Linked DNA regions of Homo sapiens: region 1 is linked to region 2. The links come from fine-mapping of genetic effects on gene expression. A gene starts in region 2. The other region holds a variant in brackets. All regions are shown on one strand. Distances are between the middles of the regions. Region 1 overlaps MYH15 (myosin heavy chain 15). Region 2 holds the start of MYH15 (myosin heavy chain 15).

Region 1 (12,340 bases), 100 kb after region 2:
GATGTACTGTGAAGGAACTTAAACGCATAGTGAAATGAGTTATATTTTAGAAGATCTCTCTGGCTGCCTTCCCAGTGACTTCCAATTGGCCTACAAGCCCCCCTGATCTGGCTCCAGCCTCCTTCTGTGACCTACTTCCTACATCTGCTTCCCTCATTTACTCCCCTCCAGCTGCCCTGGCTTCCCTTCTGCCTCTTAAACCAGGCACCATCACTCCTGCCTTAGGACTTTTATAACTGCCCTTCCCGTTGCTTAAAGGCCCTTCACCGAAGTCTTAGAGGGATGATGAGAAGGAGCCAAACATTCTAGATCGTGTTTATCTGCTGTGTTTGTTTTACTGCTATTAGAAATTTTATTTATTAATGTATTTGCCTGTGTATTTTGTGTATCCCCTTATTTCTTTTGGGCTCTTTAGGGCAGGGATTTTGTCTTTGTCTTGTTTACTTCTATAATTAAATATATGCCATGTAAATGCCACATAAAGGTTTTAAAAGTTTTTCCTTTAAAGAAAAATAAAATTAAACAAGAGGAGAGGTCACAGTTTGAACCCAAGTTCATCTGACTCCAAAGCCTGCATCCTTTTCAGAGTCATTGTGTATTGTGGCTCCTCATTTACCACCCAAAGGGGTCTGGCTGAGGCTGCCATTAACTAAACCTTGTGCCCTCAGAGCTGTATCTTCCTGAAAATGTGCTTTTTTCCTAATTTGCATAAAGGACACTTGAGGACCCGTCAGGATCTAGTGTTCTTTCCACACTAGATTATCTCTGGGGAATAATGCTGCTAGGTTAGCCAGATCACCATTTAAATGATAAAAATGTTTATTAAACCCAGCAGGGCCGTCCAATACATATAGAAGCCTCTACTACACTACAGGTAACTATTTAAATTTATATTAAAGTTAAATAAAATTAAGAATTCAGTTTTGATCACACATTGTACTAGGCATATTTTGAATGTTCAGTAGCCACATGTGGCTAGGTGTTTACCATATTGGACAGTGTACATAGAGAACATTTTCACCATTACAGAAAGTTCTGTTGGGCAGTAGTACTATTTTGAAGTATTAGGAGCTGAGGTTTTTAGAGATTTCAGTGTGAAATAAAAGATTTTATTTTCTTCATCAGTGGAATAAAAAGGCTAAATTTTAGTGGTTCTTTCTGGTTCAAACAAGCTCTGAGTCTAATATATTGCTAAATATAAATCTTATTGCCTAAATGATAGTGAATGTTCTCTTTGCTATCCTTGCATTCTCCACTATTTCTAGAATTCCAGGCCTGTCTAAGTCCACAGAGCCAAGCTGGCATTTCTCTAAATAGAATTCCCTTCCCTGTTTTAATGGCAGCAATTAGATACTATCTATCCTTTCTCTTGTCTCAAATTCTCTCCCTAGTGTTATCTTACTAGGTTCAGGTTCGGCTTGAATTTGTGGCAGGTTGTTATTAATCTTACCTAAAAAAAAAATTAGCTTACTTTCAAGACTTGTGTTGCTCATGGTGGTCATGACCTTTTTGTTAATGTGTGTCCCCTACAGTCCCAGAGTGCCCTGGCCCATGCCCTGCAGAAGGCTCAGCGTGACTGTGACCTTCTACGAGAGCAGTATGAGGAAGAACAAGAGGTCAAGGCTGAGCTGCACCGGACCTTATCCAAAGTCAATGCTGAAATGGTGCAATGGAGAATGAAGTATGAAAACAATGTCATCCAGAGAACAGAAGACTTGGAGGATGCCAAGTGAGTAGGGCAAGGCTATCCTTAACCTGGAGTTACTCACATGGAGCAGTATGAGAATAATGACTCTGTCTCCAAGGCCTCATGGTATGCACTTAACAAATCCTTGCCGAGTGCAGGAACAAGCCCAAAACCAAAGCTGAAACGTGCACTGCTGGTAAGAAGCACACTCTGTAGAGGGACTAAAAATATAAAAAGTATAATACAAAGTGACAGAGACTATAAAGAGGTCCTGGGGAGAGAAAGGAGGCTCTTTCTAGGGGCACAAGGGAAGTTTTCATAAAAGATGTGACTTTGAGCCGTGGTGTGAAAATAGGCTATCGTTTAAAACCCTGTATTTCATTTGTAACGCCATAATAATTGAGTCCATGTGTGTACGTGTCTCCATCAAAGTCGTTGTGTCCCTGGTCTACAACTTGTAGACTACAAAGTAGTCTGTGAAGATGGACAGGGAAGCTGGAAAAAAATGTTAGGATCTGTCGTCATGTCTTCTAGGACAAAGGTTGCTTTGAAAAGAAATCATCCCCAGGCCACCCCTAAGATTAGAATATCAATTTTATAGCCATTTCTATGTAAAGGTTTTAAAAGTTTTTAGGAGTTACACAAGTTTGGGGCACAGCTGAATTGAGACTCAGTACCAGGGTATAGAACTGAAGCATTTTGCTTAGAGGCCAGGAAACTGTACCTTTAAGAGAAATTGTCAAACCCCAGCTTATAATCATTCAAGGTTTACTCAAAAGAATGTGTCCCTGGCTTGGTAGCTTGGCAAAAATCCAGGGAAGATCAATACATTTCTCTTTAGCTTCAACCAGAAATAATGTTTTTCAGTTCTTCACCTAAATCTTTGAGAGGCATTGCTGTGCAATTGCTGAACAGCTGCTGTGTTTTGTCCCAGAAGGGGTACCAAGTGATCCATCTCTGTACCCACAGTAACTTAAAAAGGGCTTTAGAATGACAGATACTAAAAATACCTGCAGTAGATGTTTTATCAAAACTCTGGACCACAGAAAGTTTTGGCTTTGAACTGAGATGCCCTCTTATATCCAAATATGGTATTTACTTCTGAAGTAAGATTTTTCCCCCTTCTAATGATTGAAGAATTCAGGTGAAATTGCCTATCTATCATTCTGTTTGATGGTTTCTTTTGGGATTGGGTAGGAAAGAGCAAAAGAATATAGATTACTTTATGACCACATGGGTTTGTTGGAACTAGTTCTGTAGTATGTAATAACTAAAGAAAATAAAGGGCAAACATGGTACTCTGTGAAGACAATTTTTTACTTTCAAATTGGTGGGACATAGAATAAATAAAACTTTGTCTGTATTATGCTTTTCCTCTAAATCACCTCAGGGAGGTAGGCAGCTACAAAACAATCTAGGGTCCTGGTTTCTTTTGTTATTATTAAAGTTAAAGATTTGCCTGCTTTGATTTCCAGGCTGGGGTTCAAATGATGAGTTAGTTTAGCAGACTCAAGCTTATCTAAGACCCATTGTACTGCTTCTGAATTCTAAGTTCCCCAAGGATAAGGATTTAGTTTCTTAATTTCCAATATCCCTTTACATATTCGAGATAACTAAGTAGGTGCTTATGGTTGGCAAGTTAAGGAGCAAAATAGTAGTTGATATTAAACGTAGAACAAAGTTATTGGTAAAACAAGGGTAACCAGTTTGTCCAGTTTGCCCTGGATGTTTCCTGTTTTAGCTTTGAAAGTCTCATGTCCTGGTGTATTAGTCTGTTCTCACACTGCTAATAAAGACATACCCAAGACTGGGTAATTTATAATGGAAAGAGATTTAATTGACTCACAGTTCACCATGGCTGGGGCGACCTCAGGAAACTTACAATCCTGGTGGAAGGGGAAGCAAATAGGTCCTTCTTCACATGGTGGCAGGAAGAGAAGTGAGTGAATAAAAAAGGGGAAAGCCCCTTATAAAACCATCAGATCTCATGAGAACTTACTCGCTGTCATGAGAACAACATGAAGGTTACCGCCTCGATGATTAAATTACCTCCCACTAGTCCCTCCCATGACATGTGGGGATTATGGGAACTACAAGATGAGATTTTGGTGGGGACACAGCCAAACCATATCACCTGGTGAAACCCCTCAGTCCCAGGCAGTCCAGTATGATCAGTCACCCAAAGTGAAACTCCTATTTTATCAACAAGCATTTCTAAAGTAGTTAAAATATATGTAATTATTTCACTTGACTCCTACTGCCTTAAGTCAGGTAAAGCATCAGAATATCCTCTTAACGTTTAAGAAACATGAAGCAGAAAAGTGAAGTGAGTATGGCTAGGAAGCCGGGGGCAGAGTGTTGTTAGAGCCTAGATGCTTCCTGGATCCTGAGCACATAGGGGTTTTTGCAGGATTCCACCAAAAGGGGACTTTATTACCACATTCCTCTGTTGGGCTAGTTATGCAGTCCTATTAATTCCGGAGAACCTTTTTTTCTGTTTAATAGCAGTAGATGAGAAAAAGCTTTGGTACATACAGTACTTTTCATCTAAGAAGTATAATGAATGAGTAAGAATGGGACTGCCAGCAACCCTGCAGGAGATGTAAGAAACAGAACACATTTCATCCATTAGAATTCCTAATAGTAGCATATTACGGGGGTGGTGGAGAAAGAAGCACTGTAATAAATTACTCCATCTCAGAGATGCCCAAGGAACAGCAGATGGGGGCTAAAAAACCCCATAAGAACAGTAGGACCTGTTAAGTGAGCATAATGAGATGGGTTTGGGAATATAAATCTGGAGAGAGGAGCTGAGGTGGAGAACAAACTCGGAGAGAAGAAAGAATTGTGTCATGTTGAGGAGCCACATGATGAGAGAAAATAAGCAGGAAAAAGCAAGAGAGTGTTCTTTAGAAGCAACACAGCCAAGGAGCTCTTTAGTGACTACATATGGCTACAGATTTGTAAGGTGCTTACTGTTGGTAGGGTGTTCAGTACAATCTTCCTTTTCTCCCCCTTCTTAGGAAATAATCAAGTCAGTATTGCTTATTAGAGCTTTAGGATAAGCAAATATTTGTAGGAATTCAAAGAGATTCTGAGTTCCAAGTGCAGGTTGGCAAAGGGGGAAAATAAAGACCCCATGCACACAGGAGGCAGAGGATGGTGGTCATAGACAGTGAGGTCACTTTCAGATAGGAGCTGCTGTTGCTTTATACCACTAAGTCCACTGCAGAGGCGCCATCTTACTTTGCACCCAAGCTCTATCTTTAATCCAGGGCAGACTTGATGAGCTCTCTGAGAGTTATTGCCTCACTCACTCTTTGGGTGTCCTCCTTTCTCAGGAAGGAACTGGCAATTAGATTGCAGGAGGCAGCCGAAGCCATGGGGGTGGCCAATGCCAGAAATGCCTCCTTGGAGAGAGCCAGGCACCAGCTGCAGCTGGAGCTCGGGGACGCCCTGTCTGACCTCGGGAAGGTCCGCTCTGCAGCAGCCAGGCTGGACCAGAAGCAGCTGCAGTCTGGCAAGGCCCTTGCCGACTGGAAGCAGAAGCACGAGGAGTCCCAGGCGTTGCTGGATGCCTCTCAGAAGGAAGTTCAGGCTCTCAGTACAGAGCTCCTCAAGCTCAAGAACACCTATGAGGAGAGCATCGTGGGCCAGGAGACACTCAGGAGGGAGAACAAGAACCTCCAAGGTACACCGAGCTGGGCTCAGAGCCAAAGCCAGAGCGGGTAGCTCAGGAAGAGCCCTGGCTACAGGCAAGGCTGTCTTCAGCATTTTCACATTCCCAACATGTTTTAACTTTTCAATTTTTATACTTCTGTTTGACTTATTTTTTTTTTACTTTAGATGCTGTTTGTATTAAATTAATTCTAAAAGTAAGACTAGTTTCCTACCTTTAACTTCAGTTCCCCTCTGTAAAGGAAGCCAGTGCTGAAAATTTCTTGATATCCACAACCGTACCAAGATTTTCCATGTGTGCTATACTCAAGTGTGTAGTTTTTACCCAAATTGCATATTGTTCTACACCTTTTTTTCATATATGAATATATTTCCCGATTTAATGAATATTTCTATAGCCCATACTACGTACCAGGCACTGTTTAACTATTTATTGTTAAATTTTCAGAATAGTCTAGTGTTAGTTTTCTCATCTGTAAAATGAAGGTTATATAGGTCATAAGTTGAGTAACTTGTTCAAATTCACATTTGATAAGTCGCAGATCTGGGATTTGAGCCCAGCCAGCACGGCTCCAGCATATACGCACTTAACTACTGAGCTGTGCAACCTTCCCACGTACCTTGTGGGTCTTTGCATGCCTGTACATGGAGACCTACCATAAGCTTTTTAATAGCTACATAGTGTTTTGTAATAAAGATGGCTATCATTTAACTAGACTTTATTCATTTTAGATCCAATTATTCACAAATATGAATAATCCTACATTATATATCCCTATACATGTATTTATGCACATGTAAAAATATTTCAGTAGAATGGATCCCTGGAAAAGAAATTGCTGGGGTAATGAAATGAATTTTTAAATTTTGATTTACTGCCAAACAGCCCTTCAAAGAGGCTGCCAACTTATCCCAGCACCAACAGCAATGTGCATGAAAACCCTGAGATGCCCTGGAAGCAAGTTCATTACTGTTGGAGGCGTAAATGAAGCTTACTTTCTGTTGACCTACATAGTCTATGATCAAGGCACTAGATGGAGACGTGACGGGTGCTAAAACAGTGGTTAGAAAACTTTAGCTACGTCCAAACCAGCTGGAGGGCTTGTTAAAGCACAGATGGCTGGGGCCCACCCCCAGAGTTTCTGACTCAGTAGGTCTGAAGGATTTGTATTTCTGACAGTTTTCCAGGTGAGGCCGGTGCTGCTGATCTGGGCACCACCTTTGGACTGGGGCGGGGTTTGAATATTGAGTGAGCTTTTTCCAAAGCTCTCCAGGTGATTCTAAGGTGCGGTCAGAGTTGAGAACCTCTTCCCTGATTTTCTTCTTGATAACCCATCTTTAGGAGAGCACTTCTCAGAGAAGAATTTATTATGCAATGAAAATTTCCATCTAACATATTTGTCTTTGTAACTTCTAAAAATTCTCATCATATCACATCACAGCCCAGGATCTCAGAACCAGAGGAGCAGGTGACCTATTGAGCTCCTTCCACCACCTCTGAACTGGGTAATTCTCTGAGCTACTTGGCCCTATACCACACCTCTTAGGTACTAAAGGCAGAACTGACCATAACAATATCAGGTGGAAGAGGTTTTGTGACTTCTGGATGCCCTATTCTGTTTGTCAAAGGCTTATGTTCATGAGAGGCTAGGAAAAAACACTCAAGTGCTTGAGCTAAAGCCACTGTCTTCCTTGGGCCCCTTCTGATTCTCTGGCCTATCTGGGGCCATGCCTTGAATGCTGGCAGATATTGATCCAGCTTTTACTTTAAGTTCCTGTCGCAGTGTTGAGTGGTGGCTGAAACAATGGCAGCCACTAATGTTGATAGCTAAGCACTTACACTGGAAGGGTAGGGACTCCAGGTCTGTGTTCCTCCAGGTGGAACCTGGAATGGCTCTAATGAGCAGGACTGTCATGTAAAAGTTGCAAAAGTTGTCCAGTGTACAATACTCTGAAGCACCACCCTCACCATTTGTTGTAGACAATTTTCAATTTTCAGATGGCAAAAGACTATATGAAAAAATGAATACCCTTTTAAAATTTCTCGGTCCCATATAGGATAGGTCATCAAGTTACCAAGGGTGGCATGAGGTCACTGTTCCAGTGGGCTGGAAGAATCTGTTGTGCCTGGTATCATTGGTTTGAGACTGAGCCCATTCACTAACTTTGTTTTTCTTACCTCTGTCTCCAGAAGAGATTTCTAATCTGACAAACCAGGTTAGAGAAGGGACCAAGAACTTAACTGAAATGGAAAAGGTCAAGAAACTAATTGAAGAAGAGAAGACAGAAGTCCAGGTGACACTGGAAGAAACAGAGGTATTATCACCAGGGAGAAAAGAAAGTTTTCACTGTGACAAGGCAGAAGATCTGCATTCAGCAATAACAGCAGCACCAACAAAAGGACACGTATTCAAATGTTTATTTACTATATGCTAGGCACTCTGCCAAATGCATAATTTTAATATAATCACCGTAGGAAACTACTGTCCCCATTTTATAAAAGAGGAAATTGAGACTCAGAGAGCAGGATACACAACAGTGAATGCAAATCTCCTGATTGTAGTAAAAACAGGAACTATCTATCTTGTTCACCAGTTTATCCCCAGTGCCCAGACCCTCACTACTCAACATGTGGCCCATGGACATCGCTTGGGAGGCTGTTAGAAATTCAGAATCTCAGCCCTCTGCCCATCTCTGTTGAATCAGGATCTGCATTTTAACAAGATCCCTTGGTGGTTCATATGCACATTAATATTTGAGAAGCACTGGCCTAGAACATTGCCTGGCATGTAGTAGAGGCTCAGTAAATATTTGTCAAATGTTGAATGAATAAATATTCTCATAGCTGCCCCCTCTTTAAAGAGTCAGTCACAAAAGCTTTTCAATTTTTTTTCCCCAAAAACTTTCGGTAGTTTCAGAAATAAGATTCAAAGTGATGTTGTCAAACATTTGTTTCTGAAAGCTCATCTTTGTGCAGATTGACAGGAGGGTTTTCAGTGTTATGGATTCACAGTTCAGGAAAAGTCTCTGGCTGTATCTCTGGGTGTGCATTAGCAATTGAAAGGACCTCTAAGAAGACATTTCGCCAAAGAAGGTAAACTAACAAGGAAGTCATCTTATCATGATTCTTAGGTGGTTAAGAAGCCCTGTGCAGCCTCTTCTCAGAGCTGAACTTCATCTTCCTGACTCAGCCTTTGAACAAGTATTCAGACACATTAAAATACAGCCCTGATCCTCCCACCAGTAGAAAAAGAAAAAAGATTTTTGAAAGGTGTGGCAGTCAGTGTTAGGCAGGGGTCTCTTGGAAGGTATGGCGATGGAAAACAAGACCCCAAAGGACCACTCTGTGCCAAGCATTGTCTGTTAAATTTACCTCACCGTTGTGATTCCAGAAGAAACTTCCAAGCAAATGTGTCCATATTACCCTCTGTATAGAGTTGTCAGGCAGCAGCTCTCACCCTGTTATACATAAATGTTTCCTGAGGCTATCTAACTTTATACAGACTCCTTTTCGTTGGCAGTGTGGTGCCCTGTAGCACAGCTGGTCCTTACACAGTTGGTGAACTTTGTTTTGTTTACTCGTTCCCTTTGGTTCTCTGGCTATCCTGGCAAGGGACTTTTTGAAGCCACCACCTTAACTGAAAGAAGTAAATTTTATGATAGAAATTTCAAGTACTATGACAAGCCAATGAAAAATACAACTGGCACGGGCCATTTATGTCCTGTATAACACAGAGGCATCTTTGTGTATTCAGTCGATCATCACGTGGGTCAAGGGTGAGAATGACAGGAAGGCCATAATGCTCAAACCACTTAGTACCACTAGAT[G/A]GCAACACATTCTATTCGCATTTTCTCCACTTCTGTCCTCAGCCACATCCATAAATACTTCATCAACTTGGACATGTATTTGTAACATTGCGTTATTTATTTTCCTGGGTGAGCCTTTATGAGAAACTTTATCAGATTTTTTTAAAGCCATAAAACTCACATTATCCCAGGTCATGTTCCCTAAAGATTCACTTTCTCAGTGCATTTTAGAGGGTTAGAGGTGACAGTTTCCTCTTGAAGGAACTACTACACTATTCCCTCTGAGGAAATTGTTATCCAAGCATTTGTTTTTGAGTGTGCGTTAGCAATTTTATTTTCTTTTATATTGAAGGTAGTATCAAGATAACATCAAGGGAGGTCTTATTAAAATTCCCATCATCTTTTTATTTTTATTTTAAAATTGCAACTCAGTTTTACTTTTTTACATTTTGTCATATCTGCTAAGCACGCCTCAAAAGAGGCTATGAAAAAATTACTTCTGCCCTTAGGACTGCCTGTAGCTAACTGACCACAAAATTGCATCACCCCTTATGCCCTTATATCCTTGGTATTCTGTAAGTGTTTTTTGGATTTCTTCTTTTATATACATTTTTAGCTTCAGGACGGGTTTTAAAGATTTAGCCAAACCTATGCTTTTAGAATTGAATTGCCTTTATAACATCCCTGCAAATAATTGCCTTAACTATATTTGAATACACAAAGGGGCAAGGAATCTTCTGCCTGTCAAAGAAATTCATTTGCAGTAGTGGTACCAATTATGGTGTTAATGGCTCACACTGAGTGTTACATGTCAGGTACATTGTAAATTCCTTTATTTGTTCTTCATATGACAATATTTGGACACTACCCTGTTGTTTGTTCTCTGAATACATCCAACTTTTCCTCTATCCCCTCGTGATGTCCAGAATTTAATAGAAGATTCCAGGTAGGAGTTATCACCTTCCTTGTTCTAGCTCTGATACTTTTTAAAATTTATCCCAAAGTTGGAATATGTTAGAAAAAGTCAAGGGTAATACATTAAAAAGTTTAAATATAGTCACAGACAAGAGTGAAATTTTCTATTTTAAAATAGGCTTTAAAATTCTAGTTCTGGAGCTACAGCTGAAAGACCTAAGAATGTCAAATCTATAAGTGAAATGACAAATGAAAGCAGTTGCTTGTCTCACTGTGTTGCAATCTCTAGGGACCTGGCTTGAACCTATATCTCTCCCAGTAACTCTAAGAGAGCTACATTAGCGACATATGTTTTGGGTAAAAAATACAATTTTGTCTAAAAGTGGACTTCATTTAATGCTTTTTATTTATGTATTCCAGGGAGCCCTGGAACGTAATGAAAGCAAGATTCTTCATTTCCAGCTTGAACTCTTGGAAGCTAAAGCAGAACTTGAAAGAAAGCTTTCAGAGAAAGATGAAGAAATAGAAAATTTTAGGTATTTAAGATGATTTTGATGTGTAACAATTATGTATTTCTGAATCCTTGACTAAACAGAGCTCATTATGTCTGGCTGCTTTTATGGCCCCTGTTGGAGCATTACCAAAGAAACTTAGTGTAACTCTATATTATTTTCTTTTATATACAATATCTATAATCGTGTATAGATATTCCTTTATACACAATTAGATATCCTTTTATACACAATTGTGTATAGATATTCCTTTATACACAATTAGATATCCCTTTATACACAATTGTGTACAGATATTCCTTTATATCAATAGTGGTGAGCTTACTAGCTATCTATATACGATTATTGCCAGATTTTATAATTTTCTTATATTTGAGGAGCTTCTACTGTCATGTGAGACTCAAGACAACACCAAATAAATGATTATATGTATAAGGACTGTGCATACTGTCTGCGTGTCCCTATAATGCCACGTTCTTGGGCATTAAGAAATTGACTGAAAATGCTGAGCCATGGAGAAAAAAATTAAAAAATTAAAAAATTCAGTGCTGTACTTTCAGACCAGAGTGAAGTTTTCACATACCCCCTGCCTGTACCTGTAGCCATTTGTTTGAAGAGGAGCAGAAGCCAAGAGCTAAGCTGCTTATTGAATCCTTGTTAAAGCAGCTGAGTCTTAATAGTCAGGAAACTGAATTAGACAGGACTCATGGGTTGCAGAATGTTTTCTTAGCTTTGTCATAACAAGCTGATGACTTTAGACATTCCACTTCTTAGCTTCTCAGTGAAGTGAGGGGATAAAAGCAGTCCCTACATGTCACAGAAGGTGGTGAGGAAGATCAGTAGGCTGATGTTGGCAAAGCACTTCACACGCTGTAGATCAAAGGCACAATTATAAACACATGGAATTAACGATGATTATATTATCTAATCTGTTCCCTTAAGTCAATGCCATATGTCAGCAAGAAAAATCATTTGAGCCTGAGATTCAACTGGCAACTTACTTTCAATGTATTTGTTAAACAGTCTTTTTTTAAGAAAAAGAAAAAAAACCCTGTTAACATGTTCAATTGAACTGACCTCTTTCCCACAGCCCATTTTTAGACAAAACTCTCAAGGGGGTCAATTTTTTAATGAGGGTGTCAAGCCAAATTTGGCCTTCTATGTGCTTTGAGTTATCTTTGCTCTCACTCACTGGCATTTTCTTCTACAGGACTGACTGTGGCGAGGAATTCTGATCTACTTAAGAGGTTCTGAGTCAGTGTCTAAAAGAATTTTTTTGATGAAGGGCAAAAACCCTGGGCCTTGATATTTGCCCTACTTCTTTCCACAAGGAATAAAAATGAATGTCTCCTTGTGCAGATAAAAAAAAAAAAAGCAACAAATAACACTGATTTCAAGTAATATCAGACCTGTGCCTATAAATAAACCCAGCTGAGGAGAAATGAATCCTCAGAGAGCCTGTGTCTCGTCAGCTACATCTGAATGTCGTAGAGCAGTTCACCAATTATAATAATCTTAGTGCGAAAAAAAGCCAGAGATCCAAAGAGCTAGGGCTGGAAGAAGAAAGAACTGAAGGATAAGCATGAGCCATGAGGAGCTGAGAAAAGAAGGGGTGGACTGGAGGCAGGGGGGTGAGCTATTCATAAATTTTAGTTAATGATTCATAATAACTATAATAGGTAGATCCAGAAAGAAAAGATGAGCTTATCTTACAAAATATCACAAATACCAGCCCAGACCC
Region 2 (17,540 bases):
TTCTCTGAGTGCTGCAGACCTAGTCCTGCCCTCAGATTACTTATGTTTCATTAGGAAGATGGGCAATTAAACAAATAATAATAAAATAGGATGAAAATTATCATGATGCAAGTAGCAAAGAAATCTAAGAACACATCTAGCTGACAGAACGAACCTAGAGAATACCTTCTTGTAGAAATGTTGCTTACTGAAGACCCAAAGGATGATTAAGAATTAGCCAGATGAGGGACAGGGCTGAATGTTCCCGGCAGGGGTCACATGACGTGTGAACACCCAGAGGTCAGAGAGTGCTGTTGGCATCTACTAGTAGTGCCCCAGCCAGGTCAGGCCTGGGGATGAGACAGCAAGAGAGATGAGGTGTGGGTGTCAGTCAAGCAAGAGGATGGAGAGCTCTATAGGCTCTGTTAACATGTTGGGCTTTTATCATAGGATGCGGAATGATTTTAAATAAGATAGTACAGTAACTGTGTTTCTCTACTTGGGGGCCTCATTCTGGATTGGCTGCTGTCGGGAGACTGAGAGAATACAGCAATACGCCCCCAGAAAAATGATGATGGCCTTGATCCAGATGTTGGCAGGGGTGATGGAAAGATGGAGATGGTTTTGAGTGATATTTAGAAAGAGTCAGCAGAGCTTGGCAATTGATTGGATGTAAAGGTGAACAAAGTAGGAAACAAGAATGACTTTAATGTATCTGGATTTAAAACTAGAGATAACACTTGCTAGTTCTCTGAGACTCAGTGTTTTCATATAATAAAGGTTATTACATATATCCTTCATAGAGCTACTGTAAAGTTAAAAGAGTTATTATGTATAAAACACTTAACCTAGTTCCTGGTGTGTGATACACACTCAGAACTCAGATTTGCTTTTATTAAATAGTATATTGGCACTGTTTCCAAAGGTATCATTTCAGGGATGTTTGAGATTCCTTCCTTTAAGTTGTAAACTGTTATTCTTAAAAATACAAATGTAGATGAGAGCGTTATGCCTCCTTGACCTGTATGGCCCTGTACATTGCTCTATCCTAGCACCTAGCATTTATCATACTGAATTATAGTCACTGATTATATCTCTGTTGTCCATGTCCATTAGAGTGGAAACTTCTTGAGGTCTTATTACTCTTTTAATCCACAGATCCTAAGAGGACATACTTTAAAATGAATGCATGACAGAATTTAATCAGAAGGTGGCCGGGTGCGGTGGCTCACACCTGTAATCCCAGCACTTTGGGAAGTCGAGGTGGGTGGATCACTTGAGGTCAGGAGTTCAAGACCAGCCTGGCCAACATGGTGAAACCCCATTCCTACTAAAAATACAAAAATTAGCCATGCATGGTGGTGGGTACCTGTAATCCCAGCACTTTGGGAAGTCGAGGTGGGTGGATCACTTGAAGTCAGGAGTTCAAGACCAGCCTGGCCAACATGGTGAAACCCCATTCCTACTAAAAATACAAAAATTAGCCATTCATGGTGTTGGGCACCTGTAATCCCAGGTACTTGGGAGGCTGAGGCAGGAGAATCACTTGAACCCGGGAGTCAGAGGTTGCGGTGAGCCGAGATTGCACCATTGCACTCCAGCCTGGGCAACAAGAGCAAAATTCCGTCTCAAAAAAAAAATTAATCAGAAGTTCTTCTCTGGATCAATAGCGAATAGCTCAGTGCAGAGATCCAGCATTTTGATCAGAGATTGGGAGGTAGTAAAGTGTAGGAGAAGGTAGTTCTGAAAGGATTAAAGAGCCAGCAAACGCTGGGAGATAGAAACTAGTGAAAAGAGGGAGCAAAAGAGAAATGTCAATGATACTCACAATTTGTATTGTGGATGGACCTTTGATTAGTAAATGAACAACTGGGAAAGAGAAGAAAAGGAAGAAGGGACCCCAGCAACCAGGGAGTGTCAAATGCTGCAGAGAGGTTGAGTAGGATTAGAGACTGAAAAGCACACAATTAGGATTTCTCTTCAGGAGATCATTAGAAAGAACAGTTTCTGTGGAGGGATGGGAGGAAAAGCCACATCCCAGTGGGAGGGGAGCGGGGAGCAGAATCTAGGAGTGTAAACTCCATTGCCTGGAGACCTATAGCTGTAATAATAATCACCCTTTGAAGTAAATGCTTTAAATAATCAATAATTTGTGCAATACTCTTGATTTGTAATTCAACCGTTTAACATTCCTCTTTGAAGAAGATAAACCTGCCTAAACCCCTGCTTTTGTAGAGAAATAAGCTGCGTATAAATAAATAAATTGCAGGTAGCGTAGCTGGTTAAGGGGTGGTAGATGTGTGCCTAAAGACTAACCACTTAAGATTTTCTATGGAGGAAACCTTGCTCAGTTAAGGCACATAACATGATTATCCCAGCAGCATGAATACTAGGAAGCAGCAGCATCATTTGTCTACCTAGTAGTGTCCCTAATTAGGAGCATCTTGCAGCATTTCCCCAGATTTGTGGCATTCACTGGGCCTTGTAACTCAAATGTGTTTCATTTACTGCCTTAAGACATATGTTTCAGCTTGTTTGGGATCATTTAAGTGCTTGATAATTCTTCCCTTCAGCTGTTGACATCTAGATAAATCCATTCTCATTTTCAGGCATTGTCTCCAATTTTAATAATGGAAGAGGCTATGTCAAAAGATGCTTAGTGTTTGTTTACTCAAAGGAATATTAATATTTGTTCTTATTACTTGCATCATGGCTTCCCAGCAGTAGAAGGCTTTGAAAGTAAACATGCATAATAACGTACCTTGATGAAGAACTCAAGCGAATCTAATCAATTATGATGAAACCGACTTAAAAATGTGTCAGGACTGCTAACATGAAAAGAGTTTAACTCTTTTAACAATTTACTTCATAGGCATCATTTGAGTTTCTGCTTATAGTTAAGGCACTGAAATGCCAAGGTGAAATGAATTTCTGCACCCCCTCATCCCCATATTTATTGTCTAGCTCTGATTGAAAGAGATGAGTGCTGAGTGATAGATTTACTGTGGTCAGCAGTAAGAAGACTAGAAAGTGTGACCTTTCAGGAGCGATCACCATCTAAATAGACAATTCCCTTGTCTCACCTCCATCTACTCAGCTAGTAGCTGCCACTATGTGAATTTCCCTCTTTACTTCCCCATGGTACCATCCTCCATTATGATTTTGCACATCTCAGATTCAATAAGCAATTTGGAAAGCAAAGCTACTGTCTTACATATTTAGCACAGTGTGCAAAGACTGCATAAATGCTTGTTGAATAGTAAAAAGAACAGTTAACAGTGATTGAGGTTTTACTATGCACCAGACAATGTGCTGAGTTTTATACACAATCTTCACATCATCTTAGGAGAGAAACTAAGAAACTTTGTTGGGACAGAGACTGAGACATAATGCGTTAGTTAAGGATATTTTGATGGCAAATAACAAAAACTCACTTCAGATTATTTAAAGTTGGGAAAGAAATTAGAATGTACTGGAAGGTCATTGAGAGCGCTTATGGAAATCAAAGGCAGAAATTAAATATAGGTCTCAGGAGGTACTGTTACCAGGAAGGGTCTTTGAGATATAAGAAAGTGATCTCTCTCTTCCTTTGGTCCCTTATTGCTGCTTCTCCTCATCCCTGTGACTCCCTCTCTATGGATGCTTTTGCTGATTAGCGTGCATGTGGCACCATGTGACCACACCACAATGCCAACCTCAACCCTCAAGTTTGCATCACTCCATTCAAGCAAAGAGCCCAGATGGAGAGTGGCATCTAAATCCCAAATCTGTATTCCAGGGGGATACCCTGATTGTCTCTGATTGTCCCAGATCAGATACTGAAGCCTGGTTTATAAGTTGGGCCAGGACACCAGTGTCACCTTACAGACATGGCTACTTGCGGCTCATTCCTGTGGATGAGAGCAGGCACTTCTAATAGGAGTGTGGGCTCAACAGGCACTCCAAACTGTGTCGTCTAAAAGTGGATAAGAACTGGTAATTATACAATTAATTATCAATAAAATTAATTATCAATAAAAGTTGACGATGAATTGAATGTGGCATGAGATAGAAGGAAAATTAGAGATGCCTCCAAGGGTTCTATCCTAGGGGATTAGGAGGCTCCAGGATGAGACCCTTCCATTGGAATGGTGGGCAGAGAATGAGACAGTGAAAGAGCCTGTGAAACAATAATGTGAGGAACGTGTTTTCTCATCTTAAGAAAACATAACTCTGCCTACAGTTTCCATTCAGACTAGTGAGTTAGGAGTCGTGGCTGTATAAGCTTACCTCTTCCCTTCACTGCTACAGTCCCCCTCTGGGCTTCTTTTCTGAACTTTGCCATATGACCAGCTCCACCCCCCCACCCCAAAGTGTGAAAATTTCTCTCTACAGATTTGTCTAATGCATAATAATTCAAGACAGAAGAAACTTCTATCCCTATTCAAATCTATTACTCCAAGAGGGCACAGTATTTATTCTGCCCATTATTGTACCCCTGGGCCTAACATGGGCAATTACAGATGGGCAATACATATATATTGCATGAATATATTCAAACGTATATTTGAAAAGGACGTTTTCAAAAAAGGTGTTTGCAAAATACCTGAGGAGGGAGAGGGGGATAGCTGCAGAAATACAACCAGTATAAAAATAGCTAATTTCCAAAATTGTGACTGAATTTCTAAAAGAACTACAGGCACTACACTTAAAAGTAGGTTGACCAACTTGTTCTAGTTTTCCTGGGACTTTTCTGGTTTTCACACTGAAAATCTCAAGCCCTGGGAAATACCTCAGTTCCGGGAAGACAGGGATGGTTGGTCATCTGGGCTCGTGACTTGTCTCAGCTGGCAGCTGTTCAAACATATTTTTTATGAAAGGCAGCTAGGTCAGACCAACATGATTCTTTCTTGGCTAAGAGGAAAAGCTTACATCTCAGCTCTCCCTTCCCAGTAAGGGCTTCCCATTCTTTGTCTTTACTTTATCAACTGGTAACTAAGATACACCTGGAAATTGTGCCGTATCAATATAAACAGGATACGGATGGCTTATATGGTGCTCAGTCCCTGTAAAGGTGAACTCTAGAACAGAACAGGATGCATTATTTTGCTGTGTTACAAACTGAATTATGTCATGTACATGATGATCTAATGTCTTTCTCCGAATCCAACCTTCTGATAGTGATGACGTTGTCTATGTGCCCTGTGGATCATGCAGACAAGTAACCTGGACTTTGCAGTTATGGAAAATGTGTACATTCATTGTCAGTTTAGAAATTGCCATCTCAAGTCCTCAATTCTCTTATTAGTGGAGTGTCCATATGTCCCTATTCACTTGGGTCAGTCTTAGATTAAGTTTGTTGTCCTGATTTAAATATTAATGGCATCCCCTCTTAAAAATCCCAGTAAGAAAAAATAGGTCCAGGTTTGGGTGATGAATTGTATGCACACTTCTGAGCATAGTTATGTGATTCCCAGAACCTAATCAGTATGTATTGATAAATCAAGCTCCTGAATGTTCAAAGGCAGAGCTAGGTCCTAGAAGTGAGGTACTCCCAGCATTGTGCATGCAGCCCGTCTGCCCTATCCTTTCCTATTCTCCTTCCAGGATTCCAGTGCTGCCCCCTGCTCTCTTCTGTCTTGTAAATATATGCAGTATCAGATACAAGTTTGTTTATCATGGTGTCAGAATTCTCCGATAAACATGTGTGAGTATACCAGTCTCAAATATAATTTCCTTTCAACATGTAGATGAACTTTTCCTCTAAGAGAATTACCTTCAGTTCTATACTCATCTGTGTTTCTCTGTCATTCACAAAATATAGCTTCCTGATTCTTTTGCTGGCAAGGTTAATTTGTTTACTTCTTTTGGGCATTCGGGCTCTTTCATTTTCTATTTTAAGATGTTGCTAGGACTGGGCTGTGACAAGTGTGTTATTCTATAAAATTGTAAAGCCATATGTGCAACTGGAACCTAAAGGGACCCAGAGGTCAGTAGGACATTAGGGGGTTAATGGAAGCTGGATGGGGCCAAGGAGATAGAAGGATTTCGATCCTTTTTTTGCTCAGGTGAATCATTCTCTTGGCTTCAGTTACCTATCTCCAAATGGTTGCCAGGCCCGCCCCACTCCTGGCACCTAATGTTTCCTACTTTCCAGTGCCTGCTCCTACACATTCTGTTCTTTGTACACCTTTAAATATGTTAAATGCTCCAGACTTGGAAGGAGAGTTACACAGCTGTGTGCTCTGTTTTGCTGTGATCTTTTCATCTCTGATGTTATAATAAGAACTACTTGTAAAAAATCTGTTAATTATGAAATATAAGCACATGGCACACATTGACAGACTAGAATGGAATGAAATGAAAGGTAGTTCTCTCCTTCTCCCACCCATCTCCTTCTCTCACTACTCAGACAGACATCCATTTCTTAGGTATGTTTCAGGAAGTTTGTACACACATGTATTAATGGATATCTTTTATATTCCAAATATACTTCCCAAGCTCTACTGTCTACTGAGTGCAAGCCACTAGGAAGTCACACATACAGAGAGGAGGAGGACCCAGACAAATCCAGACTCACAACTTGTCTCCCTGACTACAGCTTTTCCTCATCCTCATCTACCCAGAATATGCCACCAGAGCCATTTTCCCAAAATACTGCTTTCCTCATGTTCCTGCCCACAGAGTTGATGATGTTTCCTACCATCTATTTCTAAATTTCTCTGCCTTATTTTCAGAGCTTTCCTTTACCTTGAGTTCTTCTATATTCAGATGTCTAACAATGTTATTGCTGTTATAATGATTACAAAACCTGAATCTGAATGCTCACCCGCAGAAAAATCAGTTTTGTCTTTTTCCCTGAGAAATGCTGCCTTCAGTCGCATCTCTGGAGGGCCATCATTTATGTTGTTTCTCTTGAGCATCTTTTCTTCTCTCCACTTTAGGAAATGTTCCTATACATTAAGACTAGTCCTTGCATTACATAGGTGAGGAAAATGCATCTACAGGGACTAAGTGATTTCCCACAAGTCACATGCCTATTTGCTGGCAGAAATAAAACTAACTCTTAGCCTGAACCAGTAGGCTTTGCTTTAAATCATACTCCTTTAAACTAGATCCTACAAGTGGTATCACTATACCTATCCAAGCCACCACAAAGAAGAGAGCAGATTAAGTGCAGTAAAATACATTAGTTTATTGGATTTGTTCATTGCAAGATAGTAAGTGATTACAGTTCATTCTGAAGTGGGTGCTGATCTGTCCTCAAAGACAGCACCTGAGCTAAGCAAACTTGGCAAGTCCTTCTCTACCTTCTTACCTATAAATGTGATGAGTAACACTTGCCTTGCATGCTTGAGTGAAGAGGAAGACTTTTTTTGTCCAAATAGAGAGAATAGCTTCTCATTTAAGATCATGAAGGCCCAGTTTCCATTTCTTCTTCTCCCTGTTATCAAATGTAAAGTGTGAAAATTAAAGATAAACTATGTCCAGTGTTTGGTATACAGTGGGTGCTCAGTGACTTCAGCCTTGGTAATTTGTCCAGCAACTTAGTCCCTCTAAGACTGATACTTGCCTTGCTTGAGCCAATGAACTTCTTTATTTATTCCAGCTTCACTCACATCACCATGTAACCTGCTTGCCACCTTCAGCCTGGGCTTCTTCATTACTGCTCTTGGCCAGGCCTCCCAAATGCCCAGCTGTGCCTGTATTTTTGTAAATCATTTGCTCCCAGACACTTATCTCTGCCAAGATACTTATCTTTTTATCCCTTTACTGTCTATTACTGAACATTTATCTGAATCACTTCTCTTTGTAACCATACTCTGTCTATAACGGTCTGTCTGCTTGGGGGTAATTAGATACCTCGAAACCCCCCTCCACGCCTATCAAAGGCCTAGTGTCCGCAACTTGATGTTTCTCCATCTGGAATATCCTACCACCTGTCAGAACTCCATGGCGCAGGGTGGCATTATGACTTTCACTGACTACAGGCACTTCTGTCTTTTAAGGACCATTTCTCCACAAAAAAATATTAAAAATCAGATTTCATAACTGTGTTGGCCTAAAGATGAATATAATCCAGGCTCTGTTCATTAATATGTATCATTCATATTACTTTTATATTTTTCTTCTGATTTAAAAATAAATTAAACATTTTCATGGGCCCCTAAAAGCATTGTGGGCCTCAGGCACTGTGCCTTCTATGTCTAGTGGGTAAGTCAGCCCTGCTAGAGTCAGATATTCTTGAGTCCAATTTTGTATAAATTTGAGACATAGCGAAGAGAAAGAAGGGGCACAGGTAGTTACAGGAAAACTTAACACTCTTTAGTCTATCTATGTGAATGGTTGCTCATTTAGAGCTTGATGCCTTATTTCCACTTTTTTCTTCTCTGTATCAATTTTTTTTTTTCAGGTTGAATCTTGCCTACTCACGTTTAGGGCCTTTTTTTGGTGGATTGCTTTAATAAAGATGGATCTGTCAGACCTTGGAGAAGCCGCAGCCTTCCTCAGAAGAAGTGAAGCTGAGCTGCTTCTACTACAGGCCACAGCCTTGGATGGTGAGACATGTGGTGGTTGCTGGCTTCACTTTATTTTGCTCCTTCAAGATGGTGACTAAGATATTTGATTGACAGAGAAGAGCCATCAGTTCTAGAGCCTAACTTATTTGCTTAGGGTATGATCAGCCTCTAGGAAACTGAGCAATTGAGGGCCTCTGAGTATCCAGGGTAGGAATGGAAGTACCCACAGAAGAGGAGGGTGGCTGGGAGGCAGTCTAGGCCCGGGCCCTACACACTTGATCCTAAGACAGATTTTCTCTTCAAGGAGCCCCTGTTGTAACACAGACACCTGCAGGAATGGCCAGACAAAGCCTTTCCTAGAAACCTCTTAGTTATCAGTGAATGCCACAGTAGAGAGAGGGGCCTGTGACTTAGACTGGTGGGTGGGGTTTGTACATTGTGGGGAAGAAGAAAGGGAAAGACTCTGGTAAGGCTGCAGACTTTGAAGTTGTCTCTGGCTCTCCAGAATTTTTTGATGTTGGAGCCTTGCCTCTAGCGGTCTTCTAGGTCAGCAGGGTCACTCAGCCAACACTAAGCAAAAGGTAATTAGGAGACTTGCTCACCCTGATTCATAATTCCTTGGTAGTTACAGGCAAGGACAAAGGTTAATGAGGATTTAGCCTTAAAAAAAAAAGGCTAAGTTCTACATTGAAATCTCTAAATAAATGTTATTCTTTTTCCTGCTACCTTTACATGTCTGTGTTGAATTTCAGCTAATTGGAGATTTAGAAATCAGATTCACAGTATGATATAACATGAAGCTACCTACATGTCTTAATCCAAAATTATTCAGCAGTGCAACATAAGGACTGGCTGAATGTCGTTCTAGTATTCAGAATTAGTCAACATTAGACTTTAATATGACCAATTATAATTCAAGCCAGTTATGGAGGATATTATATTTCCATCACAGACCAGTCCTGGATCAGTTCCCAGTTTCCAGTCATTGGATTCATGACTGTGATTGGATTTTAGGCTAATTATAATCCATCAAATCAAATACGATAACAGAACTATCCCTGAGGTCAGAACTGGTCATGCAGAGGCTTATCGCAGGTAGTTAGATAATGGAGGACAAGATAATAGTGATGCCAGGAAGAAAAAAAAATTGAGCCTAAGCATTAGAGATAATTGGATGATGCATTTATTAAAATCAGCACCATAAATAATTACTTAAAACATAGCAATCTACATAATTTCCTGTTAATTTTTTGGACCAAACAATCCTTCCTCATAGAAATGCACTGGCAGCAGAGACAAGTGTTAGCAAAAGTTGTTCATCTTCCCAGGCTGGTAGACAATGGAGTTTGCTTTTTTGAACTCGGGTCAAATGGAAGTAGTGTGATGACGAGTATTTAGCAGGTAGTCTTGGGATCAAATTCCCTGTCCTTGACCATCTCTGGCTGGGTAATTAGAGCAAATCACTTCACTTTATTGAGCCCTGGTTTCCTCATGTATCAAAGGAGATAATAATACTTGTCCGGTCTGCCTTCCTCCATTGCTGTGGGGACCAAATGAGACTATAAATGTGAAAAATAAATATAATGCATTATTATGATACCCGAGAAGGAAAACTAGAATTCCTGGGTGACAGTGAAGAAGCCCAGGTGGTTGTAGAGCTAGGACAAAACACCATTCGAAAGCCAAATGTAAATAATTCTTATATTAGAACATGTAAGCGATCTATTTAAAATAACTATAAGACTGAATATAGTATTACCCCTGTTTTAATCAATATCCTAGAAAAAAGATTCAAAAGAAATGCTTCAATACATAACAGTGGTTATCTCTGAGTTGTTTGATTATGGGTGATTAAAAACATTCTTTTCTTCATACATTATTCTTCAAGTTTTCTTCAATAAGCACATATTAGCTTTATATTGGAAAAGATATTTAATTGTCTAAAAAATGGAATCATATAGAAAAAGGCCTACTTTACAGATGAGAATACGAAGGCCAAAAGAGATGAAGTCATGTGGCTTTATATCTTTTTACCAGCAAAGCCAGTGTTAAAATCCTGGCTGCCTCCCTCAAATCCATTGCTATCTACATTTCCAGCTCTGCATTATTCATGAACACCAGGAATTAAAATTGACAGAGTTCATTTACTTCATTTTTTAAAATGTCCCTGTCAGGGTTTGGGTCTCCTATGAGAAAGGATTTCTGATAATTTTTATTCCCCACTAAGTGTTTCCAGGGGTGGTAAGAGAGAGACTTCATCATGAGGCAGGTGGTGAGCCTACTCCTGGAGAGAAGAATTGGAGGAGAAAAAGCTAAGAATGTGTTAGAGGAGGCAGGCTGTAATGCAGGAGCACTGATTCAGGAGGTGGATGATCTCATTTCTAGAGTCATTATTGTAGTGACTGCCACTAATTAGCTATGTGACTATGGGCAACTCTCTTCATCTCTCTCCCAAGGTTCTTTTTCTAAAAAGAAAGAGAAAGAGAGACAGAGGGAGAGAGACTGTGCCAGGTGACCTTCAAGTTTCTTTCAAGTGATAACATTTGGTTTAAAATGCAGAGCATTTTACCTTAAACACACACACAAAATGTATGCTAACTGGGTGCTTTTCAAAAACAAGCATATTTTCATAGACATAACACAAAGCAAAATCAGTTTTTGCAAAAAGGGACCAAAATAATGAATACAATGCAAAGCCAGTATTTAAAACACAAATGATAAGTAGAAAGCAAATGCACAATCAGCTAGATGGGAACATAAACTCCTCTTGCCAAGCAGTTTTAGTGGTGAATTGTTTGTAATCAGGGAAACGAAGAAGGCAGCACTGATAGCAAGAAAGTCGTGAGCAACCAAATTCTTTGCAGAAACAAGCATGGTGGAAGAAGGGGCAAATGGTGCCCAACTTCAGCTCCTTTGTACACACTCCTTCCCCAGTCTTATTGCCTTCCTCTGGGAAATAAGGACCACCTGTCCTGCGGCAGTGAGCCCTCTCTAGCTTTTGTGACTCATATATTGGAGGTGATGGTTGGTGACTGAGTTCGCATTACCTGTTAGTGCTGTGGTTATAGTGGGGTTTTCACCTGTGTCTTCCCTAGCCATTGGCTAACATTTTCCCTCCTTCAGCCAAAGGCTTTCCCCATGTACCTGAGTAGCTGTGACCTGGGGACTTCTGTGAGCTTCTACTAAGGCTCATTTTCATATGTGTATATATATATATATATATATATATATATATATATATATATATATATATATTCATTTTCCTTTAAAAGGAAAGTATGATATATTGCATATACATACATAGACACACATATATATAATATGCTTTTAAAAGAAAATGAGCCAACTCCTGGGTTCAAGTGATCTTCCCCATTCAGCCTCCTGAATAGCTAAGATTACAGTCATGCACCATCACACCTGGTTAATTTTTATTTCTTTATTTTTTATTTTTGAGATAGAGTATCACTCTGTCACCCAGGCTGGAGTGCAATGGCACGATCTCGGCTCACTGCAACCTCCGACTCTCTGGTTCAAGTGATTCTCCTGCCTCAGCCTCCTGAGTAGCTGGGATTACAGGCACACGCCACCATGCCCAGCTAATTTTTGTATTTTTAGTAGAAATGGGGTTTCACCATGTTGGCCAGGCTGGTCTCGAACTCCTGACCTCGTGATCTGCCCGCCTCAGCCTCCCAAAGTGTTGGGATTACAGGCGTGAGCCACTGTGCCCTGCCTTATTTGTTTTTTGTAGAGACAGGACTGGGGGAGTAAAGGGTCTTGCTATGTTGCCCAGGCTAGTCTTGAACTCCTGGGGTCAAGAGATCCTCTCACCTTGGCCTCCCAAAGTTCTGGAATTATGAACATGAGCCACTGCACCCAGGCCCTTAAAATCATATTTTTTATTCATCATCACTGTCTATCTGCTTCAACTGGGAGAGAAAGAGAAGCTGCCTCAGGTGTTCATAAGAGTTCTGGCTCATTTCACCCCAGACCTCTTGTTGGTTAATCAGTTTATGGAGGGCTACTTTGCTTAGGGATGGGGTATAGGAACTGAGGACGCTGAAGAGAGAAAAATAACATATTGGGGGAAATAATATGAGCCGGTTATGTTGTTTAACAAAAACAACCCATATTCTCTCTCCTCAACCTGCCCCCCTGCCAATTCCACCATGTAATTCACTTAGCTGATTTCCATTCCAAGATTAGAAATAAGGTCTAAAGAAACCCTGAAGAACATAACCATTAATCTAAATTTTCACTTAGTTGTTCCCAGACTTTTTCTGAATGAGTTTTCTCGGGGGAGGGAATCTGGAAGGGGTGCAAGCACCAGGGCAACCACCAAAGTCCTGGGGTGTGAGTGGAGGAAAGTGTTGGGGTTGGGAGGGGTGTTGGGAGGTAACTTTCTTGTAGCAAAATGGTCTATGGTGCCCCCAAGCTGCTGCTTGCTGAGATGTTTCTTGTTCCTGTAGTGCCATTATGTGAGTGAGTGTATCTTCAGAATGAGCTTTCATGATTTTATCTGACTTTGCAAGTTCCTGTAGTCAACAAGCTGATTTAGCAGAAATGAGATTAGATCTATCAGTATGAAAGTGTCCAGTATGTATTTCTGTAAGTACTATAGCTATAATCCATTTTTTTTTTTTTTTGCTCTACAGGGAAGAAGAAATGCTGGATTCCTGATGGTGAGAATGCTTATATCGAGGCTGAGGTAAAAGGGAGTGAAGATGATGGAACAGTAATTGTTGAGACAGCAGATGGAGAGGTAAAGAAATTTTTATTTCATTGCAGTGATGACTATGTTCTCTATCAAATAACTAAATATATTATTTCTATAATATTTTAATTAAAGATCTGGGGTAGGAGATGCCACTGACTCACTTCGGAGTCATTCATTTTAAGAAGCTCCTCCTTAAGTCAGTGGGCACAATGGCTCATGCCTGTAATCTCAGCATTTTGGGAGGCCGAGGCAGGCAGATTGCTTGAGCCCAGGAGTTTGAGAGCAGCCTGGGCAACATGGCAAAATCCTGTATCTACAAAAAATACAAAAATAAACCAGTCGTGGTGGTACATGCTTGTAGTCCCAGCTACTTGGAAGGCTGAGGTGGGAGGATCACCTGAGTCTGGGGAGGTCGAGGTTGCAGTGAGCAGAGATCACATCACTGCACTCCTGGGCAACCAGAGTGAGATCCTGTCACCAAAAACAAACAAACAAACAAAAAAACTCCACTTACCATCAAAGATTTAATGAAGAACAGTGAATAAATCAGAGTAAAACAATTGCCAGTGGCAAGGATTATTGACTAGAACTCACAGCCATTTCTACTTTTTCATCAATGTTTCAAGTCAGTATTTTTAAAAAAAGGTATCCTGTGGGGTGAATAATGACTTAAGGAACCACGAAGCAAGCTGTGTTTGTAGGATCAAGAATGAGATGTATAATTTGAGTAAAAATGGCATAGTGTCACAGAAGCCAAGAGATGGGGGAATGGCCAGTAATGACAAATGCCACAGAAGAAGATTAAGAGTTGGAGAAAGTCTTGGATTTCAGAATTAGGAGGTCATCTATGACCTTTGTAAGAAAAGGTTATATCAAGTGTTGGGGTACAAGCTAGACTGTAAGGTTCACAGAAGAAATGTGTAGTGAAGCCATAATACCCGCCAGCCCCTTCTCCCTGCCACCAAGGCATTCAGAGCAGCAGGGTAACATTGAGAAGACAGCTCACTCTCAGAACCTTTGCCTACATTGCTGACTTCACATTACCTGCCACCCCGTGGTGTAAGCCGGGCCCCATTTCTGTCCTACTTAAATGAACTCTTCCTTATAGATTTTACAGATGATTCCCTGCCAATATTCACTTCTCTAAACTCCTTTAAATTCTTCCTTTTCCCAAATCCATAACAAGCCACATCCTGTAACAAACAGATATTATTGATATCGAGAAAGTTTGTCTTTTTAATGCTATCTTTGTTTTTAGGCAATTTACGATCTAACATGTTGCCATCTGATTTTTAAAATTCTGGAAGCCACTCATAAACTACCACATAGAATGCTTTCATATGTCTTCCTGACAGTCAATATCTGTTACGTAAAAAAATCTCAAATTAGGTAGATGTTATTTAACTCTTCAGGAAATTAAGAAAAGAACTTGGTGCTTTTTAACTGGAACATAAATAGGTGGACAAGGGAAAATTCAGCAAGAAATTTTCCTTAGTCCTAAATCAGTAAACTAAGAAATAGACTCAATCAGGGTCACTTAGCCTTGGGACAATATTTTATTAGAAAAGATCCCCCAAAGAAATCTTGTGCCCATTAGCAGTCACTCCCCCTTCTTTCCTCCTGCACTAGCCCCAGGCAATCACTGATCTACTTTCTAACTCTATAGATTTGCCTATTCTAGCAATTTCAGATAAATAGGAGCATATAATTGGTGGCCTTTTGTTTCTGGCTTCTTTCACTAAGCATAATGTTTTTGAGGTTCACTCACATTGTCACATGAATAAATATTTCATTCCTTTTTATGGATAAATAGTATTCCATTATATGGATATACCATGTTGTTCATCCATTCATCAGTTGATTGTCACTGGGTTGTTTGTATGCTCTGTCTATTATGAATAATGTTTCTATGAACATGCATGTGCAAGTTTTTGTGGGGACACATGTTTTCATTTCTCTTGGGTGTATAGCTAGGAGTGTATTGCTGGATCATATAGTAACTCTATACTAAGCATTTTGAGAAATTTCCATACTGCTTTCCAAAGTGGCTACCATTTTACGTTTCCACCAGCAACATATAAGAATTAAACTCTCTCCACATCCTTACTAACACATTTTATTTTCTTTTTGATTACAGCCATTCTATTGGGCATGAAGTGGTATTTTAATGTGATTTTTATTTGCATTTCCCCAGTGACTAATGATGTTGAGCATCTTTTCATGTACATATTGGCCATTTGTTTATCTCCTTCAGAGAAATGTCTATTCAAGCTCTTTGCCCATTTTTTTAAATTGGGCTATTGCCTCTTCATTATTCAGTTGTAAGAGTTCTTTTTACTTTCTGGTTGCAAATCCCTTACCACATGTATTATTTGTACATATTTTCTCTCAGTCTATGTATTTTTTCATTTTCTTAATGATGACCAACTAAATTTTATTAGGCCTCCAGATGTGAGGCTTGCTCTTCTGAGCACATTCTCCAAAACAAACTACTGTCCCTTCAACAGCACTTAAGGTGATTTGTGACTATAATGTGGTTACAACCATAGGAAGAAAAGGCCATTAATGCAGGTAGAAAGAAGAGTCTGAAGGTGGTTTATTTTGTCCTGCTTGTCCTTCTTTGATGTAATGAAGGTCCCATTCCCCCAGCTTCACTATCTCCCTGGCTCCAGGATTCCTCTTCCTCATGTTAGAAGTGACTACACTTCCAATCACAATGTTACAATGGTCTTTGTAACATTAGCAAAGGCAATAAATCTAGTGGGTGTAAAGTACTACTTATTGATGAAAGTTGGAAATGAAAAAAATAGAAAAATAGAATTAGGGAAAAGGGGAGGTTTTTGAAGATGTATGAGATATGTTTACGTTCTGCATGGGTTTGAGGGGAGATGAGTCCTTGAAATACAGAAAGTGAAGGGACTCAAAAGAAGAGGGATTACTGTTAGAACAATGTCAAAGAAGACAGATGGATAGAAATTGAATCAAGAATGTAAAGAGTGTGAGAGCCTTGGAAAGAAGCCATCACCAACTGGGATTAAATGGGGCAATCAGTTGACACAAATATGTATTAATCATGGAAAAGGGCTATAGAAAGGGTGTTAGGAAACCTGTGAGAAGAATCCCAAGAAACTTTGATAGTAGAAATGCATCCATATTAATCAATATATTAATATTTATTGATTATTTATTATATCCCAAGCATTGTGATAGGTGCTTTAATAACTATATTTAATAACTATAGTTATTATGACAACAACATCAAAAATGAACATGCATTGCAAGTTTTTGAACTTCATTAAAGAAGACAACATCAAAAATCCTTCTTAAGGTATTTATAATCTAGCCAGAAAATAGTCTAACATAGTCAATTATTAAAATATACAAAAGAGTATTAATGTAAAGATAGTACAAATGGTAAGACTTAACAGAAGAGGACAAACTAATAAGCTGGAGTAGTTGGGAAGGTTTGAGGGAGGAGACAGGTTTTGAACTAGGTCTGGAAGGATAAGGTCTGCCTCCTTAATCCTCCACTCTAAGTTTCTTCTTTTAAATCTCCAAGGTGTGTTGGGACATCAAGGGCTGGGAGTTAGGGGTTAGATTGTACATAATATGATCCATGTACTCTTAGAGGGAATCAGGGCTAGCCAGAAGCCATAAGATTAGGGTACTGCATGATAGAAAATCTTGATATAACAAAAATACTATGTTTACTTCATCTTTAGGGAAGGAGAGGGCTTTTTCAGGGAGAACACCTGTTTTTTTCCATGAAGGCTGGCTTAATTTCTTCTGGCCCCATCCCCTAATGAGGCATCATTTTTTCTTTTTGAGTCTGAATATTCTTTCTAATTCATGGGAAAATGAATACGCATAGGAGACAGGGGAATATATCATATATTTTTCTTCTCTCTGCAGAGTCTGAGCATAAAGGAGGACAAAATCCAGCAGATGAATCCTCCAGAGTTTGAAATGATTGAAGACATGGCAATGCTGACTCACCTCAATGAGGCATCCGTGCTGCATACCCTGAAGCGGCGCTATGGCCAGTGGATGATCTATGTGTGTAATATGCTTTCCTGCTAAACTGTCATGTTGGCAGTCACATTGCATGTCCCAATCTCTCCTGGGTGATCTCTTACATTGAGTTTAAGCATGCTCGCACAGGGATAGTCCTTGAGCAATGTCTACTGGGAAGGGACCTTATCTTAGCATTTCCCCAATTTTATTTTGTCAACATTCATATGCCTTCCCACAGGTCATCCTTAGTTAAAAGCATGAGGCTTAGAGCCTGACAGAGTAGCCACCAGCCCTGTCACTTACTAGTTGTTAAGTTTCCTAACTTCTTGAAGTTG

The links. PIP is the estimated chance that this variant, and not a neighbour inherited with it, causes the effect.
Region 1: its variant is fine-mapped to the expression of MYH15 in lung (TOPMed, PIP above 0.99). The same link has a PIP of 0.9 or more in sun-exposed skin and unexposed skin.

The regions. Positions count from the first base shown.
Region 1 is chr3:108,403,621-108,415,960 of GRCh38, reverse strand. MYH15 (myosin heavy chain 15) reads left to right here. Exons shown (of 41, transcript NM_014981.3): 30 at 1,533-1,729; 31 at 5,029-5,378; 32 at 7,557-7,681; 33 at 10,508-10,623. Among named protein-coding and RNA genes, the nearest start is that of MYH15, 100 kb to the left of the region's middle. RefSeq lists enhancers at 8,915-8,974, 9,035-9,134. The variant G/A (reference allele first, on the strand shown) is at 9,194.
Region 2 is chr3:108,501,419-108,518,958 of GRCh38, reverse strand. MYH15 (myosin heavy chain 15) reads left to right here and starts at 8,363. Exons shown (of 41, transcript NM_014981.3): 1 at 8,363-8,516; 2 at 13,130-13,236; 3 at 17,104-17,247. The coding sequence starts at 8,429.